Regions from separate parts of the Homo sapiens genome. Here region 2 is linked to region 1. The links come from fine-mapping of genetic effects on gene expression. A gene starts in region 1. The other region holds a variant in brackets. All regions are shown on one strand. Distances are between the middles of the regions.

Region 1 (2,500 bases):
AGGATGGGTGGAGCGGCCACTGGTCCAGGAAGGCAGCGGGGCTCCCAGGGCGTCCGCAAGGGGCCTCTCAGACGCTTTGAGGAGCTCCGGGATGGGAGCCGGGATGTTTTTGTGAAACCAGAGAAGGTAGTGGAAGGTCAGGGCACCGGGGCGGGATCAGGGGCCACAGGCTGTTGACAAAGCCCTATCCCTGCGCCCTCACCCCGTGGGGGCGGGGCAGGCGTGGGTGCACCCAGACCCCCCAACCCTGATGTCCCCAATACCAAGGGCAGAGAGCAGCCCTGGCCGGTCCTTGGAGGATGCGGGCGCCGAGGGGGCCGGGGTCAGTCGGTTCAGAGTCGGAGCATAAGCCCGGTGGCCGAGTCGGCCGGGTGGTGGGGCGCCGGGGGGGCCGGAGCCGGGCAGGGCAGTGACCCGCTTGCCGGGGTCAAAGTCGCCAGTGTGGGCCGCGGAAGAGGAGCGGCCAGGCGGGGCGCAGACACCCCTCACCCCATCCTGGGCCGCGCCGGTGCCACCGGGCAGTCCTCGGGGCAGGAGCCCACCGAGGGGAGACAGCGCTGGTGAGACCCCGCGCCTCGGGGACGCGTCCGCGGCGCTTTGTGCGCTCCCCAGGGCGGCGGGGCCCGGGGCCCTGAGTGGGGAGTGTGGCCGCTGCAGTGTGGCCGCCGCAGGGCGCCAGGCGGCCAGCGACACCCCCGCCCCCAGCCGCGCCCCCCAGGACCAGAGAACGGGGGAGGGGCTGAGACCCCTGGACCTGCCCGACGGTGCAGGACCGGGTGGTGTCCGAGCCGGGGTTGGGAACGGGGGTGTCTGACGGGACTGAGGAGCGCACCAGCCCGGACCCCGGAGACCGCCCGGCCGGCTCCCCGCTCCCCGCGCCCCCGGCCCCGCCGCGCCCGCCCCGCGGTCTCTGTCCCCACCGGGTCGACTCCCCAACGTCCCCTCGGGGCCGCGGCCCAGGTGCTCACCGCGCGGCGCTGCTCGGGGGTCGGCTTGGCTCCCCGCCGTCCTCTGGGCGCGCTCGGGTCGGGCGCCGGTGACCGCTCGTCTTCGCGGCGCTGCCAGATCGGGGTCGGTGCAAACTTTCCGGCGGCGACGCAGGGCGAGGGCGGCGGCGGAGGGCGGGCTCGGGGGCGGCCCCGCGGGGGTGGGAGCGGCAGCCGAGGGTCCCCGCCCGCCCTCCGCGCAGCCTCCCGGCGAGCTTCGGTCCTGCCCACCCTGCGCAGGGAGCGCCTCGTACCCCGGCCATACGCAGACTCGGCGCGCTGAATTCCACCCCGCGGACCCGCGCCCCACAGACCTTTGTCCCACGGGTCCTGGTTCCGCAGACCCTAATCCTGCAGACCCCTGAGCCCGCGGACCCTGGCCCAGCAGGTGGTGGTCGCGGTGGGTCCCAGCTCCGGGAGGGGACGCCCTGGGACGCGGAGGGGCGCGCGGGCGTGGGGGCCGTGGCTCAGCCCCCCTTCCTCTCGCTCCCTCCGCCTCCCTGGGCGCCCCCTCGCCCCCTTCCTCTCGCGTCCCCGGGTTCTCGCCCCTTCTTTCCTGATGCCTGCCTGATTTTCTGGAAAGACCGACACCCCCAGTCGCCCCCACCGCGGCTCCCGGTTCCTTCCCCTGCAGAGCAGACGGGGGCTGGAGTAGGGGCCAACATGGGTGACATGGGTGGACCGGCAGGGCGGTCCCTGGGGTGCCCTTTAACTCTTTCTGTGCCACATCCCCGGTCTCTGGCCAGTCCTGTCGCGCTAAGGCCCCTCCAGCAGCGCTGACCCTGGTCCCCCACCTGCTGGTCCTGCGGCCGCGGGGCGCTCTCTCCTCCGTCCCACCCGCTCCTTCCACACCACCTCCTTTCCTGGGAGTGGAGAAGCCCCAGCCAGAACCCCTGCCTTCCCCAAGAGGCACGCTCAGAGGGACATTCTCCCCTTCCTCACTCCCCCTAGAGCCACATCACACCTGGCTTTGGGGCCCTAGAACCTCAGCCCGCGCCCCTCCCCTTCCACCCCCAGCCATCCCTGCTCTGTGCCCAGTGATCTTGGGGTCACCACAACCCCATGGCGCCTTGAGGCCTCACCTTTCCTGGCCTCTCAGCATCCTGGGACACTGATGGTCATGCCTTCCTTCTAGAAAGTTCTCTCCGAGGCTGTGGCTTCCAGGATGAGCACTCTCCTCCTCCCACTTCCTCCCCTTCTCCTTCCCCCTCCTCCCTTCTCCCTGGAGAGGTCTTCCTCCAAGTCCCAGTCTTCTTCCCCACCCAGAGCCCCTCCCGCTGACACTTGTCTGCAGTGCCTGTCTCCGCTCCCGCTAGGAAGCCTCCCCTCCGGCATCTCCAATCCATCTCTGGGTCCTGCTCCACCTGCATTTCCCTAGACCTGTCCTGGCCACCCTCACCCTGGGACACCTCCTGCCCGTGGAGAGCTCCTCTGATAGGTGCCGTCCTTGGTCTTGGGGGTCCTTTCTCCCTAATTCTACTTCTGTTTTGGGGGCGTGGGAACCCAGGGTCTTA
Region 2 (3,000 bases), 69 kb after region 1:
TTAGCCTGGGCAACAGAGAGCGAGACTCCATCTCTAAAAAAGTATTAAACATAGGCCAGGTGCAGTGGCTCACACCTGTAATCCCAGCACTTTGGGAAGCCAAGGCGGGCGGATCACCTGAGGTCAGGAGTTCGAGACCAGCCTGGCCAACATGGTGAAACCCCGTCTCTACTAAAAAGACACAAATTAGCCGGGTGTGGTGGTGGGCGCCTATAATACCAGCTACTCGGGAGGCTGAGGCAGGAGAATCGTGTGAACCCAGGAGACAGAGGTTGCAGTGAGCCGAGATCGTGCCACTGCACTCCAGCCTCGGCGACAGAGTGAGACTCTGTCTAAAAAAAAAAAAAAAGACAAGATGGCAATGCCCATCAATCCTTGTTAAATTCACGGGCACAATTCCCACAAAAAACCAGATGGACCCTGGCAGATGCCATGGACAGCCATAAACTCAGGGGAGCAGCAGCCACACAGCAGCGGCTGAGCCAACTTGCTGTCTTCCCTGGAGTGAGCCACGCAGCGCTGGCCCACAGTAGGTGGAGACGGACCTAGTGAGCATGTTCGTCCCAGCCTGGCTCAGCAGGGCTGGAAGCTGGCATTCACCTGGAGCCCGCTCAGTCTGCAGTCCCTGCCCCGCCCCAGAGTGTGTTAACGCTCCTGCCGTCACCACAATTCTAGTGCTTGAAGAGCCCAAGTATCAGTTGAGATATTATTGGTTGTAAGTCATTGGAAACTCAACTGAAATGGGCTGGAAAGACAAATGGATCACATCACTAGATGATTTGGGGAGCACCCGCAGGAGCAGCTGACTCGGGGGCCGGGCTCCCTCTCCGAAGTTCCCTGTGCTCCGCCCACCGCTGTGTTGGTTTCAGCCCTAGGCAACGGCCACTGTCCTATCATCTGCACCGCCTGCGACTCACACCCCTGGAAGTTAGGAGAGTCTCCCCTCCACCAACCGTCAAACCAAAGTCCCCAGTTGCCAAAGACCAGCTCAGCCCAGGTCACGCACCCTCTGCAGCTCAGCCCGTGTGACTGAGAAGTCCCAGGAGAAGGAAGGGGAAGTGGGTGTCTCCAGGCATCACGAAGCCTGCTCTGCGGGGCTACGTGTGTAGACACAGGCTGGTGGAACGCCTTGCCGGAGAGCAGGGGTGGTTCCAGGGAGGTTCCCAGGTCCCAGCTCCACTCTTGGCTGGAGGAAAGCCTAGGAAGATGCCCTCCCGTCTGCAGGATGGTGCGCGTGACTCAGCAGGGACAGAGCTGCCTTTCCGGGTGCCTGGTCCCACAGGGGAAGCCCCAGAGTCTCCCCGGGGAAGGGACTGCAGTGAGGTGCCAGTAAAGCTCAGACCCCTTGGGAAGCAGTGAGCCTTCCCAGCAGGGTGAGCGTGCCCTCTGCATCACACAGGGAACTCCCCCCAGGAGGTCCTGAGCCTGCAGGAGGGGACGGCGGGCCCTGGGTTCTGCCTGACCCGGACTCGGGGGTGGGTGGATGCCCCTGGAAGGGTGGCCTGCAGAGCCCCCAGTGACCGGGACTCTGGGGACCGCAGGGGCTGGGGCTGAGCTGCAGCCAAGAGACCTG[C/T]TGCGGAAGGGGGGACCCCTTGCAGACAGCCCATCACTGCCCTGTTCCTGCCGCCAGGTGTGGCATCGGTGTTGCTCCCGGGTCCGGGCAGTGGTGGCCGCTGCACCAGTTCCATCACTGGGGGCTCTCGGGGTTGGGTGCTGGGATAAAGGCAGGCCCCAAGCTTCTGGGATCATGGGTCTGGAGTTGTCCCTGGAAAATAGAGCTGGACCCCTTTTGTGCCCTGAGGGCGGGTGACCACACATGGTCACAGGGCAGGAGGGTGGATTGCAAGCTGAAGTGGGTTGGAGAGACCCTGGAGGGGTTGGAAGTCCCACGCGGGAGACTCAGCTGAGCCTCCTCTGCACCCTGCCTGCAGCTGCTTCCCCTGCAGTGCCCACCCCCAGAGCCCTGCCAAGTCCCAATGGAGCCCCACAATCATCCCCCAACGTTACTCACCTCAGGCGGCCAGAGTCTCCCCTCCATACTCGAAGCTGCCGGGGTCTCCCTGCTGCAGACTCTCCCTAGCAGGGACCCAGACAGACGGACGCTGGTGGCTGGACAGATGGGCTCCCGGGTCTAGGTTGCCCAGCCCAGCCCAGCCCCTCTGTCTCCAGCGTGGGGTCAGACTCCGGGAAGGATGCTGTGGCCTCCATCCTGTGGTCGGCCTGTCCTTCCAGGCTCAATCAGACGTCACCCCGCAGCCCTCCTGAGTCGCCCGGCCCTGCCGTGCCCTCCCCGAGGGGCTAACGAGGCCTTTGCTCTGGCTCTGGCATCCGCCCATCGGCCCAGTGCCAAGTGGAGTCCACATGGTGCCCGCCCAGCACCGGGTGATGGTGACGGTGACGGTGGTGACTGTGCGGGGCCGTCTGGCCTGTGGAAACCTGATCCTACCCCTGGCCCCGGGGCCGGCTAAGTCCCCAAAAGCCCAAAGCCGGGGTTCTAGTGCTGCTTGGGCCTGGGCTGCCCTCTCACGGAAGCTCTGTGGGCACCTCCTCTGTCAGGCGGCCGCCTGGGCCGGATCTGGACCCCAGAGCTGTGTCATTGCGTATTTGCCAGACCATTCATGTCCCAAGCAAACTGGACAACACCGTCTTTGCCATCTCCCCTGCAGACAGCCTGCAGCAGGCTGGGGTTGGGTGAGGAGGACCCTCCAGCAGGACAGGCCGCCCCCACAAACCGAGCCTGATCACCCTGACCCTGTTTCACCCTGGACAGCCGAGGCCTCCCCCAGGGCTGGCTTGGCATAAAGAAGCCCCCATGCCAGCCCTGCCGGGCAGAACCCCATCTGTCCAGGCTGCACTGGGCGCTGCCACCCTCCTCACCCTGCCTGGCTGGCCATGTCCCAGCCCCATTCCAGCACCAAGCCTTCCTGAGCCGACAGCGCCACATGGCTGCCACCCAGAGGCCACTCAGGGAGTGACAGGCCGCTGGCCAGCCGGGTGGAC

Which allele goes with the higher level. Positions count from the first base shown, and alleles are read on the strand shown. Sizes are in standard deviations (SD) of each study's normalised expression.
As copies of C replace T in region 2, the expression in unexposed skin of the gene that starts at base 1,068 in region 1 goes up (moderate effect, 0.41 SD a copy in GTEx).

The links. PIP is the estimated chance that this variant, and not a neighbour inherited with it, causes the effect.
Region 2: its variant is the best candidate, but not a certain one, in a credible set for the expression of GCGR in unexposed skin (GTEx, PIP 0.68).

Annotation. Positions count from the first base shown.
Region 1 is chr17:81,802,718-81,805,217 of GRCh38, reverse strand. It overlaps GCGR (glucagon receptor), which reads right to left and starts at 1,068. Exons shown (of 14, transcript NM_000160.5): 1 at 969-1,068. LOC105376789 (a long non-coding RNA gene) reads left to right here and starts at 473. Exons shown (of 4, transcript XR_001753046.3): 1 at 473-560. RefSeq lists an enhancer at 1,100-1,599.
Region 2 is chr17:81,733,862-81,736,861 of GRCh38, reverse strand. It overlaps LOC105371929 (a long non-coding RNA gene), which reads right to left. Exons shown (of 3, transcript XR_935049.2): 2 at 1,007-2,076. Among named protein-coding and RNA genes, the nearest start is that of SLC25A10, 23 kb to the right of the region's middle. The variant C/T (reference allele first, on the strand shown) is at 1,574.